Homo sapiens: one gene and its partner. The protein of the gene in region 1 purifies or fractionates together with the protein of each later gene. This does not show direct contact. Each region holds a gene or a part of one and is shown in the gene's direction. Other genes may lie near its edges.

Region 1 (5,216 bases):
TGACTGCAGCTTTAGGCGTATCCCAAGGTTTTCAGTACTAGTTTAGTTTTTGTTGTTTTTGTTTCTAATTATCCTTTTGGCATTTCCTTATCAATATAAGACTTTTTAAAATTCAAGTGTTTTGATTCATTTTATCCAATTTTTGGTTACTAATTTCTTGGTTTCTTTGTGTTGTGGTCACATCATGTGGCTTTTACACACATTTTCTCTGTTTTGGGGATTTGCTTACTTTTTTTTGTAGTCGTGCAAGATTTTTTGTGAAAAGAAAAACTGTATCAAGTTCATCACCTTTATCAATTTGACCTGTGCCGTGAACTTCTTTAGATTCATTTGATTCAAATGGATCTAAGTATTTTAAACATTTAGAATACTAATTTAAGCAAGGCTTGAAAATTAAATGGAGTAAAAGCAATAAAAAAAATCAATATTAGCCTGGGCATTGGTGGCTCATGCCAGTAATGCCAGTACTTTGGGATGCCAAAGCAGGAAGATCTCTTGAGCTTAGGAGATTGAGATCAGGTTGGGCAAAAACATGAAAAGACTAAATCACATCTCTAGCAGGAAAAAAAAAAATCCAGATATGATAGCTCATGACTATAGTCACAGCTACCCCAGAGGCTGAGGTAGAAGGCCAAGAAGTTTGAGGCTGTGGTGATGGTGAGCTATGGAGGTACCACTGTGCTCCAACCTGTGTGACAGAGTGAGACTCTCTTTTCTTTCAAAAAAAAGGAAGAAAGGAAAATCAATGTTAGTCTGTCAATACATTTTCTTATTGTTTTAAAACTGTATTTGGAAAGTTTCAAAATGCATTTGGACTGCATTGTTCTAAAGGCAAGTTAGAAATCCAAATATCTTTTGCACAGTTATTTCACCATTAATTCTTACTAGTTTTGGTTGTATGATGGGAGATAGACGTATAAAAATAACTTATTTAAAATGTCAGTGGATTTTTTTGTAATGGACATTCCTGGATGATAGGTGAAATTTGAACATGAACTGTTTGTTAGATAATAGTATTGTCTCAATGGTAAATATTCTGAATACAATTGTTTTGTGATTGTGCAAATGTTTTCTTTCTTAGAAGACAAGTATTGATGTGTTAGGTAACAAGCTTGTGATGTAGTAATGACCTGTCAAAATGTTCAGGAAGGAAAATAATACATAAGTATATATAAAAATATATGCCTCTCTTTATATATATGGGGGTCATACATTTTATATATTCATTGCAAGACATGTATTATATATATTATATATATTTATTATATATTATATATTATATAATACATATATAAATATTATATATAATGTTATATATAAATATTATATATATATGCCCTCACACAGGAGAGAGAGTATCGAGCGCGAGTATGGAGGGAGGGGAGAAGTAAACAAAAGGGGCTGAATGTTAATATTTGATATATCTAGATGAAAGGTCTATTTCTTGCACTTTCTATTGAAAGTATATCAAAATAAGTTGGCAGTGATGAGTAGCATGTTAGGTGTTTGTAGGGTCTGTTTTCAAGGGAAATTGACAAGTTTGTTGGTTTTATGTTTTAATTACATATATAAATTTATATTATTAATGTATGATTAGAGTTCCTGATAAAATAAATCTGGGAACTGCTGCATATTATATATGTTCCCCATAGAGATTAATTAGCATATTAGTGTAGTAAGGATGCTGAGAAATAACTTAGAAGGGGAACTTTATTTAAATTAACACTTCCCATACTTATTTGGAGTAAAATGTTCTTTTTTCAAGGTACCTCTTAAATATCCTACAGATCAGTGGGAACACCAATGTGGGATTACTTTTTAATTGATTATTTTCTTCTCTATACTTACTCATCATTATATATTTTTGAATCAGACAGTAACTTATATTGCCTAATAACTTTTGGAGATCTTTTCTGTCTCGTCTAGCTCTAACACTGTGCTGTTATCTACAAATTTGGATCTTCATTGCTGATATCTAGATCTGCTTCATCGAGGAATATAGACTTTATTTTAATCTTTTTCCTTTTAAAAATATTTTTGTTTTTATAATTTTGCAGAAGTTAATTTGACACATTTATGAGGCATTTATTTAAAATAAAGTCAATGCATTATTTTAGTTATTAAAAAATAAGTAGTTTACAAATGTTCACTATTATGTAATTATTGGTGATTTTAAAGAAGAAAACATCCGGGTATGTTTTATCTTTAGGTGTGTACAGAACAGGAATGCTATAACTTCCTACATTAATTTTTTCAAAATCAGTGAAAATAAGTGATGCATAAATGAGCTTCACCATGGGAAAAAATGAAGCTAGGCAATGCAAGAAAGTAATGGCTTCAGAGTTAAATATTGACTAAATTAATTACCCTCATGTGCTCTATAGCTAAATAATCTGTTTTGTTTTCTCTACCTCAAACGAAATGCTGAAGAGGGGAGCTAAAATGGCAGTAGAGATTATAGTCTTTCTGAGTGCTCAAATAATTTCAGAGACATGAAGGCTAAGCATAGGTCGTAAATAGGACATTGAATGCACGTGTAGCATCCTGATGATTTCAGGATAAGAAATGTAGCACTAGAGTATTAAGTAAATGCCTTTTGAAGCCTAAAAGCCATTTATTAAAGGAAGGATAGTAATGAACTTCAGGAAGCAATTACCACAATTTGTATTAGCTAAATATATAGAGGTTCGAGAAGATGAATTCATTGGAGTATCAGAGAATTAATATATCCCTAATTTTTAAAAAATTTATCATAGAAAATAAACATGTCTCTTATAAAACATCTATAGTACTTACTGTGCTATATTTCAGTGCAGAATTTGACTTTCTGTGAAGTAAAAATGAAATAAGACAAATTGTAATATAAAAATTTTATAAATTTTTATTTATTTATTTTTTGAGACAGAGTCTCGCTCTGTCGCCCAGGCTGGAGTGCAGTGGCGCTATCTCAGCTCACTGCAAGCTCCACCTTCCGGGTTCTCGCCATTCTCCTGCCTCAGCCTCCCGAGTAGCTGGGACTACAAGCGCGTGCCACCATACCCAGCTAATTTTTTGTATTTTTAGTAGAGATGGGGTTTCACCATGTTAGCCTGGATGGTCTCAATCTCCTGACCTCGTGATCTGCCCGCCTCGGCCTCACAAAGTGCTGGGATTACAGGAGTGAGCCACCACGCCCGGCCCAATTTTATAAATTTTAAATGATAAATCATAGTAAATATATATTTATAGGATGGGCGTGGTGGCTCACTCTTGTAATCCTAGCACTTTGTGAGACTGAGACAGGCAGATGACTTGAGGTCAGGAGTTGAAGACCGGCCTGGCCAACACTGCAAAACCCTAACTCTACTAAAAATGTAAAAATTAGCCAGGCATAGTGGTGCATGCCTGTAATTACAGCTACTTGGGAGGCTAAAGTAGGAGAATCACTTGAACCTAGGCGGTGGAGGTTGCAGTGAGTCGAGATCATGCCATTGCACTCCAGCCTTGGTGACAGTGCAAGACTGTCAAAAATATATATATAACATATATAACATATATATGTAATATATATATAACATATATAACATATATATGTAATATATATATAACATATATAACATATATATGTAATATATATATATAAGATAACAAGTATTCTATATATTGAAAATTGAAACAAATGTGAAATGTATCCATTGATAAATGTGATGCATTGTGACGTATTTTTTATTTAAATAAACACTGGTTATAAAACACTGATTTATAACAACTATTTTAAATGGGTTGTTAGCTTGAAGATAAATGAGATAGGGCATGATTCAGGTTTCTGTGTACACACTATATTCTAATGAAAGTAATTACAATTATCTTCTAAACAGCTGCAGATATTTTTTCTATAAACAATTTTAGATGTTACATTGTTAAATGTTAGCTTTCAAATTCTTCACATTTTAACTCAATGAAGTCCTTTTTAGCAAACTTACAGGAATCATTGTATCATTCAGCTATTAAATAAGGAATTGTTCTAATTCACATCTTAATTAAGAACTTTACTAGGTTATATCTTTTGCAAGTATGAGAATAATCTAGATAGAAGGACTAGAATTGGATTAAAGGTGATCCAGATAAAAATAGTAATTCTAATGAGGAAATTTTTTAACATTGAAAATAGTACCCTGTTTATTTTTTTTAATGTTAGAGTCAAACCATTGCACATTACTGTGTAAAAATACACAAAGATGGTAACTTGCTGCTAAAGCCCTTTTTACTTTTGAATCTTTGTATTTTTTTCACCTTTGTAATTTTAAGTTGTGCTTTTATCACTCATTTGTTTTCTATCTTTATTTCTGTTTGGGTTAAAGTTACAAACAGCAAGTTTTTGTGTTTAAATTCCTGAAAATGTTGCGATGGAATTACAGTAATGTGTTACGGCTTGGGCCCCTCGCAGGAGTGTATCTCGCAGTCAGCAGTGAAAACAAAGTTCGAACAGCACACTATCAGAGCTAAACAGATACTAGCTACTGTGAAAAACATAATGGATTCAGTAAACCTGGCAGCTGAAGATAAAAGGTATGAGTTCATTTTGTTGCAACATAAAAATGTTAGTTTTTTTGTCAGACTTTTGTTAAGATGAGGTTTTAAATTGTTGTACTATAAATACTTTTTACACTGAAATCAACCTTGTGGGTTTAACTGATGCCTACTTCTATATTTTTAAGTGCGTATTTGAAAGTGTCGATATTTATTCTGCAACCTTGCACACATCATTTATATCCCCTGGACCTCACTATTCCTGTGTATGAATTGTGATTTTTAAAATGTTTTGTGGCTTTAAAATATCTTTGAAGCAGTGGAAGAACCATTTCTTCAAGCAGATTTTTATGAAGAAGTCCAAAACAGGTGATCCTCTTTCTGCATTCAACCCACGACCCATTTTTTAATATGGTCATACATTGGTATTTTGAAATCACTATTTTATACTAGTTGTGTTTGTTTATTGCCTGGTGAACAAACAAGGCGATGCTACCTGCCAACCAGAAAGTTGATTTGGTAAGCAGTACCCTTTATGTTATACTGTACGGCATTATTTTATACTATTTGTTACCTTGTAAAGGTGGCAATGAATACATGAAAATACCAGCATTATCGATACAAAGTATAATTTTCACAAACTTGGTATGCTTGAAACACAGATCGGGATGTTATTAGATGTGACAAAAGTAATGATGTTAAGCCTC
Region 2 (4,357 bases), on another chromosome or scaffold:
TCTAAAGTGATTATCACCAATGTAATGATATAGAGACACAGCAAGACCCTTTCCTTCTCACCTAATGTATAGAGCAATGCAGAGATAGAATGATGGGCTATAACAATCATATAATTGAAAGAAAGAACTTCAAAAATAATCAAGTTCAGCTGTTTGATTTATAAATGTGATAACTAAAACCTAGAGAGGAAAAGAGGTACTCAAGATCACACAGTAGGAGAGGACTGCAGAAACACCAAACCCAAGCTCTTTTGTCCACTCTTCCAGCGTTCTTTCTACTATACTGCCTATCCTTTATCTAGTTACCAATAAATAACAAAAGCTTGGACCACAATGCTTTTATTGTCTAGGAAACTCCTGAAGAAGCTAAATAAAATGGGTGGGGAATATTGTAAATGTAATTCAGGCTGGATTAAGAAAGAACTTATTTGTACATTGTAACTGACAAGCACCTGCAATGCTGAAAGGAATTTTTCATTGGCTTGCTGTTTGCTGGCTGCATCAAAGCCCTGTCTCTAGGACATGTCTCTGAACATTGTGTGTAGCATGGCTTTCATTTCTTTTAGGATAAAATTCAAAACCCTTTATCTGGTTGGTAAACCTCTGCCTAATTGGGAACCTTCTTTCTCCACAACTCCATATTGTACACTCCAATTTCATCTCTGTTCTCCAACCATGGAAGCTATTTGTCATGATTCCTCCTTGTGTCATTTTTTTTCTGTCAACCTTGGGGCTTTTGTGTTTGCTGTTCACTTCACCTCCTTTTATTGTTAACTTCTACTCATCTTTCAATTTTCAACTTAAGTGTTCTCAGAGAAACCTACTTTGATTTTCTTGGTCCACAACGGTTCTCTGGATGTGAACTCTTATAGCACATAATTTTCACTTTTTTCCACAAAACTCGCTCCTATCACCTGTTACAAGCATTTACCTCTGATAACAAGAACTTTCAAATATCTAGCTGTCATGTAAGCACTTTTCATAAACATTAAGAGTATCTGTGACACTTATGTGTAATTTTTCGTATCTCTGAAATTGATATTTACCAGTCATTTATCTTGGCTACCAACTAACAACTATCCATATTATCTGTACCAATCAGATGTATAATCACAATTTTGTGTGACAGAAAATGGCTAAACTTGATCCAAGGCTATTACATGCTTTATCAACTGCACAATCTTTATATATGTCAATTATTGATCTTTAACTGATTTCCTTCTTATGGATTTTCTCCTCTGCTTATCATGTATGCCTAACATGACAAAAAAGAGCCTATCATTGCAGCCAGTATGATAATACTCAGTCTGTGGGGCTTCTTATTTGCTTATTCCATCATCATCTGTCCTGCTTGATGTCTTTGCCTATGCACAATCATATGACCCATCACATCTGTATGAAGAGCTGGATGACTAGGATTAATATTCTATTTTAGGTTCTTATTCAGCAGAAATATTAGATAATCAATGTCTTTTTATTCCTGTAGGTGTGAAATCCAGACAATTGAAGATGGGGCATATCAGAGCCTAAGCCACCTCTCTACCTTAATATTGACAGGAAACCCCATCCAGAGTTTAGCCCTGGGAGCCTTTTCTGGACTATCAAGTTTACAGAAGCTGGTGGCTGTGGAGACAAATCTAGCATCTCTAGAGAACTTCCCCATTGGACATCTCAAAACTTTGAAAGAACTTAATGTGGCTCACAATCTTATCCAATCTTTCAAATTACCTGAGTATTTTTCTAATCTGACCAATCTAGAGCACTTGGACCTTTCCAGCAACAAGATTCAAAGTATTTATTGCACAGACTTGCGGGTTCTACATCAAATGCCCCTACTCAATCTCTCTTTAGACCTGTCCCTGAACCCTATGAACTTTATCCAACCAGGTGCATTTAAAGAAATTAGGCTTCATAAGCTGACTTTAAGAAATAATTTTGATAGTTTAAATGTAATGAAAACTTGTATTCAAGGTCTGGCTGGTTTAGAAGTCCATCGTTTGGTTCTGGGAGAATTTAGAAATGAAGGAAACTTGGAAAAGTTTGACAAATCTGCTCTAGAGGGCCTGTGCAATTTGACCATTGAAGAATTCCGATTAGCATACTTAGACTACTACCTCGATGATATTATTGACTTATTTAATTGTTTGACAAATGTTTCTTCATTTTCCCTGGTGAGTGTGACTATTGAAAGGGTAAAAGACTTTTCTTATAATTTCGGATGGCAACATTTAGAATTAGTTAACTGTAAATTTGGACAGTTTCCCACATTGAAACTCAAATCTCTCAAAAGGCTTACTTTCACTTCCAACAAAGGTGGGAATGCTTTTTCAGAAGTTGATCTACCAAGCCTTGAGTTTCTAGATCTCAGTAGAAATGGCTTGAGTTTCAAAGGTTGCTGTTCTCAAAGTGATTTTGGGACAACCAGCCTAAAGTATTTAGATCTGAGCTTCAATGGTGTTATTACCATGAGTTCAAACTTCTTGGGCTTAGAACAACTAGAACATCTGGATTTCCAGCATTCCAATTTGAAACAAATGAGTGAGTTTTCAGTATTCCTATCACTCAGAAACCTCATTTACCTTGACATTTCTCATACTCACACCAGAGTTGCTTTCAATGGCATCTTCAATGGCTTGTCCAGTCTCGAAGTCTTGAAAATGGCTGGCAATTCTTTCCAGGAAAACTTCCTTCCAGATATCTTCACAGAGCTGAGAAACTTGACCTTCCTGGACCTCTCTCAGTGTCAACTGGAGCAGTTGTCTCCAACAGCATTTAACTCACTCTCCAGTCTTCAGGTACTAAATATGAGCCACAACAACTTCTTTTCATTGGATACGTTTCCTTATAAGTGTCTGAACTCCCTCCAGGTTCTTGATTACAGTCTCAATCACATAATGACTTCCAAAAAACAGGAACTACAGCATTTTCCAAGTAGTCTAGCTTTCTTAAATCTTACTCAGAATGACTTTGCTTGTACTTGTGAACACCAGAGTTTCCTGCAATGGATCAAGGACCAGAGGCAGCTCTTGGTGGAAGTTGAACGAATGGAATGTGCAACACCTTCAGATAAGCAGGGCATGCCTGTGCTGAGTTTGAATATCACCTGTCAGATGAATAAGACCATCATTGGTGTGTCGGTCCTCAGTGTGCTTGTAGTATCTGTTGTAGCAGTTCTGGTCTATAAGTTCTATTTTCACCTGATGCTTCTTGCTGGCTGCATAAAGTATGGTAGAGGTGAAAACATCTATGATGCCTTTGTTATCTACTCAAGCCAGGATGAGGACTGGGTAAGGAATGAGCTAGTAAAGAATTTAGAAGAAGGGGTGCCTCCATTTCAGCTCTGCCTTCACTACAGAGACTTTATTCCCGGTGTGGCCATTGCTGCCAACATCATCCATGAAGGTTTCCATAAAAGCCGAAAGGTGATTGTTGTGGTGTCCCAGCACTTCATCCAGAGCCGCTGGTGTATCTTTGAATATGAGATTGCTCAGACCTGGCAGTTTCTGAGCAGTCGTGCTGGTATCATCTTCATTGTCCTGCAGAAGGTGGAGAAGACCCTGCTCAGGCAGCAGGTGGAGCTGTACCGCCTTCTCAGCAGGAACACTTACCTGGAGTGGGAGGACAGTGTCCTGGGGCGGCACATCTTCTGGAGACGACTCAGAAAAGCCCTGCTGGATGGTAAATCATGGAATCCAGAAGGAACAGTGGGTACAGGATGCAATTGGCAGGAAGCAACATCTATCTGAAGAGGAAAAATAAAAACCTCCTGAGGCATTTCTTGCCCAGCTGGGTCCAACACTTGTTCAGTTAATAAGTATTAAATGCTGCCACATGTCAGGCCTTATGCTAAGGGTGAGTAATTCCATGGTGCACTAGATATGCAGGGCTGCTAATCTCAAGGAGCTTCCAGTGCAGAGGGAATAAATGCTAGACTAAAATACAGAGTCTTCCAGGTGGGCATTTCAACCAACTCAGTCAAGGAACCCATGACAAAGAAAGTCATTTCAACTCTTACCTCATCAAGTTGAATAAAGACAGAGAAAACAGAAAGAGACATTGTTCTTTTCCTGAGTCTTTTGAATGGAAATTGTATTATGTTATAGCCATCATAAAACCATTTTGGTAGTTTTGACTGAACTGGGTGTTCACTTTTTCCTTTTTGATTGAATACAATTTAAATTCTACTTGATGACTGCAGTCGTCAAGGGGCTCCTGATGCAAGATGCCCCTTCCATTTTAAGTCTGTCTCCTTACAGAGGTTAAAGTCTAGTGGCTAATTCCTAAGGAAACCTGATTAACACATGCTCACAACCATCCTGGTCATTCTCGAGCATGTTCTATTTTTTAACTAATCACC

What was found. Proteins that work in one complex are often made in the same cells at the same time.
Region 2: the proteins of MFN1 (region 1) and TLR4 purify together in Homo sapiens (affinity purification with western blotting; one study listed by BioGRID). This does not show direct contact.

What each region holds. Positions count from the first base shown.
Region 1 is NC_000003.12:179,370,794-179,376,009, forward strand, and holds part of MFN1 (mitofusin-1), read left to right. Parts: intron 1-4,426; coding exon 4,427-4,548; intron 4,549-5,216. UniProt on the Homo sapiens protein: Mitochondrial outer membrane GTPase that mediates mitochondrial clustering and fusion. Membrane clustering requires GTPase activity. It may involve a major rearrangement of the coiled coil domains.
Region 2 is NC_000009.12:117,710,903-117,715,259, forward strand, and holds part of TLR4 (toll-like receptor 4 isoform A precursor), read left to right. Parts: intron 1-1,486; coding exon 1,487-3,746; 3' UTR 3,747-4,357.